Linked DNA regions of Homo sapiens: all the other regions are linked to region 2. The links come from fine-mapping of genetic effects on gene expression. A gene starts in region 2. Each other region holds a variant in brackets. All regions are shown on one strand. Distances are between the middles of the regions.

The links. PIP is the estimated chance that this variant, and not a neighbour inherited with it, causes the effect.
Region 1: its variant is the best candidate, but not a certain one, in a credible set for the expression of RNF175 in rectum (CEDAR, PIP 0.62).
Region 3: its variant is the best candidate, but not a certain one, in a credible set for the expression of RNF175 in CD4 T cells (CEDAR, PIP 0.81).

The regions. Positions count from the first base shown.
Region 1 is chr4:154,336,145-154,340,144 of GRCh38, forward strand. All of the region lies in intron 3 of DCHS2 (dachsous cadherin-related 2), which reads right to left. Among named protein-coding and RNA genes, the nearest start is that of DCHS2, 150 kb to the right of the region's middle. The variant G/A (reference allele first, on the strand shown) is at 1,683.
Region 2 is chr4:153,758,016-153,762,369 of GRCh38, forward strand. RNF175 (ring finger protein 175) reads right to left here and starts at 2,009. Exons shown (of 9, transcript NM_173662.4): 1 at 1,782-2,009. The coding sequence starts at 1,847.
Region 3 is chr4:153,806,958-153,811,311 of GRCh38, forward strand. No RefSeq gene overlaps it. Among named protein-coding and RNA genes, the nearest start is that of SFRP2, 20 kb to the left of the region's middle. The variant CTCCCTCCTTCCCTCCT/C (reference allele first, on the strand shown) is at 1,955.

The DNA.
Region 1 (4,000 bases), 580 kb after region 2:
TACAATAAAACTTCAGCAAATGTAAAGACAATGGGGACAAGAGTGACGACTTAGGCTTATGCATGTAGAGTATGTGAGAGGAGAACTTATTTATGGCTAAGTTGGGAAGAGATTCGGTAATACTGACAAAAATGAATTATTTAATATTATTAATACTACCACTTAGTGTACTAGTTTAAAAACCTGAAAACGGATCTAATGCAATCAACTTAAGAAATGAACCTGTTAGTTTTGTTTAATGAGAAAAATGTATGCAAACTTATTAAATGAATTTGCGAACAAATACGTATGGCTGGCCTTTATGGAATTCATCATGTACAACTGGCCATAACAATTAGTTAATGAATGAATACTGCAGTCTTTGCCAGTTTAGGAGAAGTTGGCAAAAACATCAGGGATATCAGTTTCTAGGCATTAAAAGGTGACATCCATTTGATTTCTTCCTTTTTTATATAAAAATCTGCCCTCTTGCAACTTCGATTTCTTGTTTCTATTTCTATTAGAAATTTAATAAAATATTCTTATTTACTGAAATCAAATATCTTGCTTGGCCTGCTCTAAACACATACTCATTTTCCTTTTTTCCCCAGCTTTATTAAGGTATAGTTGACCAATAAAATTACATATGTTTAAGGTGTACAATTTGACAATTTGTGATTATAACCATTTTCTTTAATGATTCCTTATCTAATATGATTTTAAGTCATTTCTCTCACAGTTCTTTCTCCTAAACATGGTCCAAGTTGATCATCTCAATTTTGATAACCAAAGTGAACAAACTTTGTTTCCAGATACAATTTTACTGTTATAAAGCAGAGGATAAACACTCTTTATTAGAATACCATAAAATACTAATGTAACCAACTATTAGTACACCAGCTTTTAGTAACCATATTCACATCTGGTTTCAGACTGATTTGATGGTCCATCAAAGCACTCAGTACTTATCACAAAAAATTTCCAAGTCAGATCTTTCTCATCTGTTATTGGTGCAGTTTCTAAAAAATATTGCTTTAGTATTAAAGTCTCTGATTGATTGAAAAATAAAACTTGAATATACACAAATGTGTACAGAAGAGAAGAAAAAGTCCCCCTACCCCAAACATCCCCACTCACCAGGTATATATTCTTCCAGAGCTACCACTAAATTCCGATTACAGAGAAATTTTAAAAGATTTTATGTTGAGCCCTGATGATTATGACAATGAAAAACTTAATGTCTGCCTCAACACAACCTGGTCTTCCTGCATCCCGACTGACTCCTTCTGAACTATTTTTATATTTGTGTTAGACCAGTCTTCTTGAAATCCAAATCTAGACACATCGATGGCTCCCCAGCTTTTCAGGGTAAAGCTTAAATGCATTATCTTAACATACCAAGCTATTCATAAATGGCCCCTCTCCCTCTCTGTAACCCCATCTCATAGCTCTCTGTGTCATAGCTCTCTGTACAGTACCTTTTGCTCTAGGCAAAGTGAACAGCTTGTAATTTCCAGAAAAGACCTTGCTGTCTTCCATCTGGATTGCTGCGTCCTCTTCCCAGAACAACTTCTTCATCTTCTTTGATGTAACAATTTCTAGCCATATTTTATTATTATTATTATTATTATTATTGAGATGAAGTTTCACTCTGTTGCCCAGGTTGGAGTACAGTGGCATGATCTCAGCTCACTGTGACCTCC[G/A]CCTCCTGGGTTCAAGCGATTCTTCTGCCTCAGCCTCCCGAGTAGCTGGGATTACAGGCACGTATCACCATGCCCGGCTAATTTTTGTATCTTTAGTAGAGCCAGGGTTTCACCATGTTGGCCAGCCTGGTCTCGAACTCCTGACGTGATTTGCCTACCTCGGCCTCCCAAAGTACTGGGATTATAGGTGTGAGCCACTGCACTTGGCCTCTAGTCATATTTTAAAACACAGCTCAGGTTTCATCTGGTGCAGCTGGCCTTCTCTTTCTCTCCACTTAGCTCTAGCTACCACTATTCTATGATCCCGCAGCAGCCTGGGTACATGTGCCTATTATGAACTTAACATGCCTTACTTAATTACCGGTTTTTAATATTTTATATCAGTCCTTCATTTACTCATTAGTTTACTGAATGATTTATAAATAAAATTAAAAGAAATTTTGAAAATATACAAACAACAATTTACTATACATAAGGAGAAGAGAGATCTGTAAACAAAATGGAAAATAACTGAAAGTTAGATTAGCAGTGGATAAGGACAGGTAGTTTAGATAAGAAACAATAAAATGTTGATAAATATAATACTACCTAAAATCACTAATAATAATGAAAATACAAAATTAAAACCACTACCTCATTTTTACCTCTCTGTTTTCCTAAAATATTTAAGTGATAATACCCAGAGTTAATAGCAGGTTGTTATTTATGTACATTCTCCAAAAGGCACTTTGGTGATACTTATCAAAATTTTAATTGTTCACACTCAATAACTCAGAAATCTACTCTATATTTGTGTAAGTACACAGAAATAAATCAAGAGGATGTCATTTGGAACACTGAAAATGACCTTAATATCCATCAGGAAAAGAATGGACAGTGCACTCTATTGTGGTATATCAATACAATAGAATACTGTGTAGCATCAAAATGAAGTAAATATACATGTTTTCATCTAGAAAGACTTTACACACTACATTTTATGTGAAAAACAAGTTGCAAACGTGAGTCTATGTTATCAATCCATTGTGCTTGAAAAAATAATGTCAATACTACAAGTATTAGCCAGGATTCTCCAGAGAAGCAAACCAATGGGATCTCTCCTCTGTAGATATAGATATCTATAGATCTTATATCTCTCATATCTACATATAGAGATAGATAGATAGACATTAATAGATAGATATAAAGTGAGATTTACATTAAGGAATTGGCTGAGATTATGAAGTCTGAGAAGTCCCATGTTCACCCATCTGCAAGCTGGAGACATAGAAAAGCTGATGGTATAGTTTGAAAGCCTGAGAGCCAGGTAGTCAGTGGTGTAGATTCTAGTCAGGGTCTGATGGCCTGAGAGCCAGGAGCACTGAGGGCAAGAGACTGATGTCTCAGCTCAAGCTGTTAGGCAGAGAGCAAATTCAACCTTCCTCCACCTTTTTGTTCTTTTTCAGGCCCTCAGTGAATTAGATGATGCTCACCCATTCTAGGGCTGGCCATCTGCTTTACGCAGTTCACCAATTCAAATGAAAATCCACCCACAGAGACACCCAGAAACAGTGTTTAATCAGCTATCTGGGCATCTTGTGGACTATTCAAGTTAACACATAAAAGTAATAATCACATGAACAAACTTTTTTTTTTTTTTTTGAGATGGAGTCTCACTCTGTTGCCCAGGCTGGAGTGCAGTGGCGTGATCTCGGCTCACTGCAACCTCTGCCTCCTGGATTCAAGCGATTCTCCCGCCTCAGCCTCCTGAGTAGCTAGGACTACAGGCGCCTACCATCACGCCTAGCTAATTTTTGTATTTTTAGTAGAGAGGGGTTTCACCATATTGGCCAGGCTGGTCTCAAACTCCTGACCTTGTGATCCGCCCATCTCGGCCTCCCAGAGTGCTGGGATTACAGGTGTGAGCGACCGCGCCCAGCCAAACATTTTTAAAATCATGGTATATCTCTATTTAATGTAAAAGAAAAATTCATGAAAACCTGCTGAGAATATTTGATTACAGAACACTATGTAAAGTTTGAATACAAACACTAATACATATACGATGTGTATACACACAGAACTATGCATACTGAAAAATATGAAAGGATAGGAACTGTTAAGGGAAGTCATCTTTGTGTGTTGAGATTATGGGAAGCTCACTTTTTACTTCTTACATTCCTATAGTTTAAAAATTTTTTAATAATTATATGTTAACTTTGTAAATGAAAAAATATATTTTAAAGATATTCAGAAAAAGAAGATATGTTTGGTTATTATTTAACTTTTTTAGGACTATGAAGGAAACTTGTAAACTATAGTGTAAACTAAGATTGGAC
Region 2 (4,354 bases):
GACCACATGGCTTTTCTGCTGGAGCTTTCATGCTGAAGGAGGTTCTTAGACAATCAAATACACACATAGACATACTTCAGGTAGTGATAAGGGTGATGAAGGAAAATAAAATAGGGTGAGGTTCAAACCAAAGGGAAGCTATCAGATAATAGGCTGGTCAGTAACTATCTCTGTTTTCACTTTCTTATCCCTAGCTCTAGTAAAGTCAAGAAACCAGCACTTCTTGAACTTTGATGTGCAAATGAATCACCCTGGGATCTGGTTAAAATGCGGATTTCAATTCAGTGGGTCTGGCGTGGGAACTGAGACTGCATTTTTAACAGGCTCCCAGGTAATGCCTTGGCTGCTGGTTCCTGGACCACACTGTCTTGCCATATGGGATTAAGGGAAAAGCTGTGAGTCCCTCCTAGGGCAGCCTCAACAGAGAGGCCATACCTCCTGAGGGCAGCAGACTAGGCAGTGATGCCAGCCTTAAGGAAGAGCAAAGATCAGCAGCAAATCCACCAGTACTAGATCCTCTGACACTCCTGGCATGCATTCATCAATTCAGAACCTCCCTTTCGATAATCTGGGTTTGAAACCAGCAAGAAAGTCATGGAGTTTCATTTTAAGTTTCCCCATTTTGTGGTACACAAGCCCCTCCACAGCCTAGCCCACCCTTATTTTTTGCTATAAGCATTCCTGACCCCTAGGTTTCTGGCAGTCAGAGTGGACAGTCCCCTCTCTCTGCCTTGTCCCATGGCCATCCATCCCAATATTAAAAAAAAAAAAATCTCCAAGCCATTTGGTACTGTTGTTCCCTCCATCTAGAATTCTCTGGCCCATGAGGTCAGATCCTGTCCATTCCCCAACACCCAGCTCGAATGCCACGCCCTCACGGGTTGGAGGAGAAGGGGGTTAGTCAGGAGCAAGCCCTTCTCAGAAATCCTACAGTTCTTTGCCTGAACCTATTTTGGGACATTAATCTCTTCCTACCCGCTCTGTGAGTGATTTTTGTTGTTGTTTAAGAGTTATCTTTGCCCTTAAGAGTTATTTTTGTCCTCGTTTTACGGATGGGATTTGGGTTCCTCCAGGTAAGACCTACCCTCCTCCACCCCCAAATCCTCCTGGTACCTGGATGTAGCCTAAGAAGAATTGTCCTATGAACGAAGAATAAATTAAGATTGGGTTTGCAATTGACGCCAGCAGAAGCAGAAATGGGCTAGGTTGAGCACCAGGCAAGACAAGCTGACGATCAGGGTACACATCTTGAATCAGAAACCCTGGGCACAGACCAGCAGTCTGCGTGGTAACAGGCCCTCCGAGTGATTCTGATGACACTCGAGTTTGAGAACCAGGGCGGTCTAGCCAAAAGCCTGCAGTACACCCCTTCCCCTCTCTCGCAGCTTACGACCTTGACCCTGGGCTCTGGGGGCTTCCGCCGAGGAGGGAGGAGGGCACAGGCGGTCACAAAGGAGGGCGGGAGTGGAAGGGGTGAGCCTGGAAGAGAAAGTGCGAGGATGCGAGAAGAGGGATGGAGCGAAGGAAGAGGATCAGAAGGAGGAAAGGAAGGTAGCGGGGAGGGCACAGAAGTGGGGAGGGAGGGAGTGGAGGAGGGACTGGCACCCCGCACGGTGGCATCTTCCAGAAGGTCATGCGTCCGTCCCCACGTCTTTCCAGGGCCGGTTCTCCCCGGTGGGGCCCGGGGTCTTGGAGACCAGTCTGTGCAGCCTGCCCGGCACCAGCGTGAGCCCCGGGACCCCGGCCTGGCGTCCCCCACGCCCGCGCCCCCGCGCCAGTACCTGCTCCTGCTGCGGGGGGGCCTCCAGCACCGGCGCTGCCTTCCGCGCCGCCGTCCCCGCGGCCATGCCTGAGCCACTGTGCCTTCTCCAGGGCACAGCGCCTGCCGGGGAGGGTCCCGCAGAGTCCGCAGAAGGAGGCGCCGCGGGGCCTCGGGAGCCGAGGGTGAGAGCCGGATCTGCGGCGGCGGCGGAGCGGCGGCCCTGCCCGGGTTGTGCGGGGCGGGAGATGGGAGCCTCCCGGCACGCCCCGCCTCCGCCCCCTGCACGCTGGCCAGCGTCCTCCCCAGCAGCGGCCTCGAGGTCCCGGTCGCCAGCACCCCGGTTCCTTCAGAACCTCAGGCCTCCCATTCAGCCAGCCATTGTCGCCGATAAAGCGTCTTGAGCCCTACCGGGTGCGTGTGGCGGGAACCCCGGTTTTGTTACCGGGCGGCAGGACTGGAGGAGGGGTCAGAGGTGGGTAGGGAGAGAGAGGGGAGTAGAGGAGTGAGAAATGGCGGTGGGGGGGCGAGGGGTGCTGGGGAGGAAGAGAAGAGAGAGAGAGAGTTTCCTCTCCCTCAGAGGTGTTTATTAGGAGGCAGGAGTTCGGGTGGCTGTGCAGATACAGACTTTCCTCAGTTATCTGTGCTTCCTCCAAAGATGATGAAGGAGAGAAACTCCAATCTAGGGAGAGCGCAGACCATCTTGGCCCCTATGCTGCTCCAGGCCATGCAGGGCCCCTGCGACGCAAGCATCTTGCCTTTGCCCCTCTACCTCCAGGGTCTCCCCTCCCGCCTTTACAACTTAGGCCTAAGCCTGGCTTCAAGGTTGAGAACAAGCTGGAACGTTTAGGCAAGCCTTTAGAAATACCTGGGTGTTGATTTGGGGAAACAGAAAAGAGGAGCACAGAATTAGATGATGTGTCCTACGAAATACAGCTTACCCCTTTCCAGTTTGTGATGGCTCGTATTTGTCAACACCTACAAAGGAGGTGAACAGACCAAGATGGACATTTCTCTGCCATTGTGGAACGTAGAGCCTAACAGGGGATAGAGAAAAATAAGCATCTAAGTACAATTTATCACGGATGGTGCCTTGGTTTTCCAGCCTTAACTGGGCATCAGAATCCTATGGAGGAATGCTGAGTTTGTTAAAACTCAGAGTGCTGGCCAAGCACAGTGGCTGATGCCTTTAATCCCAGCACTTTGGGAGGACAGGGCGGGCGGATTGCTTGAACCTAGGAGTTTGAGACCAGCCTAGGCAACATGGTGAAGCCCCATCTCTATAAAATATACAAAAGTGAGCTGGGCGTGGTACACCTGTAGCCCCAGCTACTCAGGAGGTTGAGGCTGGAGGATCGCCGGAGCCCGGGAGGTTCAGGCTGCAGTAAGCCGTGATGGAACCACTGCACTTCTGCCTGGACAACAGAGCGAGACTCTATCAAAAAACAAAACAAAAATCTTCAGATTGCTGGAGTTGAGCCCTAGAGTTTTTAATATAGTAGGTCTAGGGTGGAGCCTGAGCATTTGTCTTTTGAACAAGTTTTCAGGTGCCGCTGGGGCTGTTACCTACATCTGAAGACTACCTTGTAGCATGATCAGAGTGTGTTGGAAAGAGTGTCTGAGATGGAGAGAACAGTGGATGCAAGGGCCGGAATGCTGGAGAAGGCATAATGAATTGGAGAAATAAAAATCATGGTTAACATTGATAGAATGCTTACCGTGTGCCAGGTGCCGTCCTGAGCACTCTACCTGTGTTAGCTCATTCAGTCTTCCTGACAATCCTGTGAGGTGGGCATTGTGACCGTCCGTGTTTTACACGGGAGAACACTGAAGCACAGAGAGGTCCAGAAGTTTGTTCAAGTTTTGAAGCTAATAGGTGGGGCAGTGGGAATTTGAACCCAGACAAAACTGACTTCATGGTCTGGGTTCTTAATCTCTCAAGGAAGTAGCTGCGAAGGTCAGCAAGGGCCAGATCCACATAAATCATATTAAACAGTTTGGACTGTAGCCTCAGGAGAATGAGAAGCCATTACCGAGTTTTAAGCAAGAAAATGACATTACCAGACTTGCCTTTTGGCTTCAAGAGTGGGGAAGAGGGCTATGACTATGACTCAAGACAGAGAGACCAGCCAGAAAGCTATTGCTGTAGTTTCAGCTCTAAGGATGACAGTGGCCTTGGTGGTGAGAGTGTGTGCGGGGACAGAGTGGAGGGGAGATGGAGAGATGTGTTTGGGGATGGGAGATCTAGGTAATAGAATCTACTGTACTTGACTCATCTCCAAGGATGGTGCCCAGGCATGTGGCTTGGGCAGTCTAGCATTTGGGCAGACAGTGCTGCCATTGCTGAGAATGGGAACATTGAAAGAGCAGCAGATTTGGGGACACAAAAATAGTGGGTTCATTTGGACATGTTACTTCTCTACCTATCTTGTGGCCTGCCTTCATGTGGCAAGAGCCATTTTTTCTCTCCAGCCCAGGATATCCTCACATTCATCTAGATTCTCCCAAGGCAGCAAAATAATAAAATGAAAATAGTCCATATGGAGATAGATGTTCCCTTTCTATAAAATTCTGACCTGTTATTGTTATATAAGT
Region 3 (4,354 bases), 49 kb after region 2:
CTCATTGTGAAGGTCTGCGGCTTCACTCCCAAAGCCGGTGAGACCATAAACCCACTGGAAGGAACGAGCAACTTCAGATGCACCACCTGTAAGAGCTGTAACACTCACAGCGAGGGTCTGCAACTTCACTCCTGAAGTCAGTGAGTCCACGAACCCACCACTAGGAGTTTCTTCTACTGGTGGAAGAAACTCCGGACGGGTCCGAACATCAGAAGGAACAAACTTCAGATACACCGTCTTCAAGAACTGTAACACACACCGTCAGGGTCCACAGCTTTAGTCTTGAAATCAGTGAGACCAAGAACCTGCAAAGTCTGGACACAATTTCATTGTAGAGGATTTTAATTTAAAATAAAAAATAACTTACAGTACCAAGTCCTTGTATAATGCTTACACTACGAGGACCTGTTTAAGTCCTTTGCATTTATTTATGCAGCTCATGCTATTCTATGGAGTAGGTATGATTGTCTCCATTTTATGAAAGAAGAAGCAAGGCATGAAGATGTTAAAGATCTTGCCTAGGGTCACACAGCTAACAGGTGCTGTCAAGTTATGGAGTCTGTGGCCTTAGAACGTCTATAGCATGGGGCAGGTTTGATTTTCACATGCAGTGTACAAAGTAAAGCCCACTGGGGCTTTCAGAGCCAGAAACCACTCTTCTTAGGATAGAAGTCATTCATGAATATTGAATAAATGACATTTAGACTACCTACTTAAACCAGGCAGGGTTTAGTTAGGAAAAAGTTAACATTTTGGGATCACAAGACAAATTACACTCTTTAGGTCATGGCTTGGTCCATATTATGCAAGAAAACCAAATATCAGATTATGAAAATCTGAATTCTAACACATAGAAACCAGAATAGGAGTGAAACTTCTTAGGGATACACACAACTATATAATTTAGATTTAAAAAAGAAAAATTGGCCGGGCACGGTGGCTCAAACCTATAATCCCAGCACTTTGGGGGGCTGAGGTGGGTGGATCACGAGGTCAGGAGATTGAGATCATTCTGACCAACAATGTGAAACCTCGTCTCTACCAAAAATACAAAAATTATCTGGGCGTGGTGGCGGGTGCCCACAGTCCCAGCTACTCGGGAGGCTGGGGCAGGAGAATGGCTTGAACCTGGGAGGTGGAGGTTGTAGTGAGCCTAGATTGTGCTACTGCACTCCAGCCTGGAGACAGAGCAAGACTCTGTCTCAAAAAAAAAAAAAAAAAAAAAAAAAAATCACATAATTTTAAAGCTAGAAAAGGCTTTTGGTATTGTTTATAATAACCCTTCTCTTTACAGTAAAGGAAGCTGAGGCTCAGAAAAGTTGAAATACTTGACCAAAGTCATGCAGAGAGTTTGTGAGAGAACTCCTGGTTCATGGCTATTCTCAACAGCCTTGGTGAGTCATGTTTTATGGTGTAGTCTGGGGTTAGATAGCACAACAAAAATCCACTCTGATCTTCTGCGTTAATCAGGCTGACTGCATAGTTACTGAAGCTGCACTTCACCTTGAGTTGTGTACACAAAAGTGTTGAGTTAAAGCCTTTCTGGCCATCATCATGCCAGTCAGAAAGAGAGAATCAAATTTAACAGGGGAGAAAGTAAAAGAAAATAATGGAAGACTGAAACTGCAACAACAAGAAATCTCCGTGTTTCTGACCTTCCTGTCCCCCTTAGAATGGACATAATTTTCTTCAGGAAAAAAAAAAAAAAAGACAAGTAGGAACCATGGTCACCTCTCTTGGACTTCAGTTTATCCCTTCTTCTGTTTTTAAAAAATGCATTCTCTAAAAAGCCCTGGAGTTAAGGCCCTGAGGATCTAACTTAAAATGGATTTCCTTCCCTCCTTCCTTCCTTCCTTCCCTCCTTTCCTCCTTCCCTCCCTCCCTCCTTCCCTCCCTCCCTCCCTCCCTCCTTTCCTCCTTCCCTCCCTCCCTCTCTCCCTCCCTCCTTCCCTCC[CTCCCTCCTTCCCTCCT/C]TCCCTCCTTCCCTCCTTCCCTCCTTCCCTCTGTCTGTGCTATTTGTTTTTTTTTCTTTGTTTATTTGAGACAGGGTCTCACTCTGTTTCCCAGGCTGGGGTGCAGTGGCACGATCATGGTTCATGGCAGCCTTGATCTCCTGGGCTCAAGCAATCCTCCCACCTCAACCTCCTGCATATCTGGGACTACAGGCGTGTGCTAATTTTTGTGTGGTGTTTTTTTTTTTTTTTTTTTTTTTTTTTTGAGATAGGATTTCACTATGCTGCCCAGGCTGGTCTTGAATTCTTGGGTTCAAGTGATCCACCCATCTTGTCCTCCCAAAGTGCTGGGATTACAGGCATGAGTCACTGCACCTGGCTATCTGTGATGTTTTTAAAAATACATTTTTTGTATATAAAAAATGGCATCACTTAAAGCTTTTAAAATTTGTGACTGAAATACAGATATCCTGCTTCTCTATCATAGGCTGTGAGTCCAGCAAAGTGCTTAGCACAGAGTAAGTACTCTATACTCAAATACATCAAAGTGACATGATCTGAAATTCATGTCTTTATTCACTAGATGTTCTATGAGAAGCAGGATGTGGTCAAAAAGGTTGCAAGAAAGTGAGAAAACCACCTCATGATGGTGCCTGGGCACATCAGTACTCTTGCAGCTTGAAATTGAGATGAGCCATTGATTTTCCATGGGTTGAGCACATGATACCATCAGGTAGGTTTTAAGCAAGTCTTCTGGGATTTCATACTTAATCAGTAATGCAGTGAGTTTCCATTGCAACTGAAAGGCATTTATATTGGAAACGGGTGCCAGCTGTAGTGTGATGATTTCTTATTTCCAACCAGCTAGGGAGAGATAATTGCAGGTATTGATAAAGCCATACAGATTCGCTCTATATGGTTCAGTGAACTGCTCTTTTCATTCTGTGTAGACAAATGTTGTTATCGTTTATTTATGACCTGTGAGCAGGTTGTTATATCCTAGATTACTTATATTCAATGAGGCATACTCTTTTATTATTCTTATTTCTTTGCCCTTCTCATTTAATGACTTCTACAAACTCTTCAGTGCAATAGGTTCTTCTATAGCAGCAGAAGAATCATCCTGCTTTGCCTAACGATGCACTGCTCGGTTTCAGCCATCATTGATTGTTCAGTTGGTGGAGCCTGCATCCACCCGACTTCCCTGTTTCTTGTTATGTACACTACTTTCTAATGTCACAGATGCCCTTATGTGATGCGCACTTTCATTTTCTTTATTTGCTTCTGCTTCTGTTCTGGTGTCCCTTCCTATTTTTTTCATGTTACTATGAATTTTGAAAAGTCAATTCTTAAAAAATACTTTTAATTCCATAAAATAAATATTTCAAAACCAACATATTATTTTCACCTTCACTATCCATTTTTTTTCATTTGGACCTAGTTAGCGAATATGGAGGATAAAATTTGTTCATATTGCTCAGAGTATAGTGGTGATTATTCTCCTTGACCTTTGAATATCGTGCACCGAAGAATAGGGAAGTAGTGTTCTAGAACTGAGAATGAAGCATAAATAAGTTCACATGCTGCACTGTTGCCTAAAGCCATAGGAAATTATGTTGACAGTCAAGAGAATGCTGGCAGTCACAGGACACTTCACCTGTTATTTACGCAAAGGCATAGTGCAGGTTCAGTAGCATAGCCTGTGTGGCTTGTGGTTCATGAATCAGACTGCCTAATCCCGGGAACCACAAGGGACATCTGTAAATCCATTGGCCAGTTCCTGAGGTAAGGGCCACAGGCAAACAGACTGTTTCTAGAAAATGGACAGTAGAAAAAGCCTGATGTGGGGTGGGGGGTATCAAAAAATGATATTAATTTTCATAAACACTTTATGAGTTTAAAATACCATGTGTATTTTAATGTGAGACAAACCTCACATTAAGTTTGATAAAATAGAATAACATAATTATGAAAAATTAAAATGGTGACATGCTGATAAATCCACAACAATGAAATCCTTTTGTCAAAGGAATGGGAAAAACTCAATAGAAATATTAGAAAAGCGTGTAAATAATATTTCTTTAGGGAATAAAGAATTAATGTTATCAACATTTTATTCAACAGAACTGAATAGGATTAAAATAATAATTTAGGCTAGGCGTGGTGGCTCCTAGTCACCTAGCCTAATCCTAGCACTTTGAGAGACTGAGGTGGAAGGATCATTTGAGGCCAGGAGTTTGAGACTAGCCTGGGCAACATAGTAAGACTTCCATCTCTAAAAAAAAAAACTAGTCAGACATAGTGGCATGCACCTGTTATCCCAGCTACTCTGGAGGCTGAGGGAGGAGGATCGCTTGAGCCCAGGAGTTCAAGGTTACAGTGAGCTATGATCTCACCACTACCCT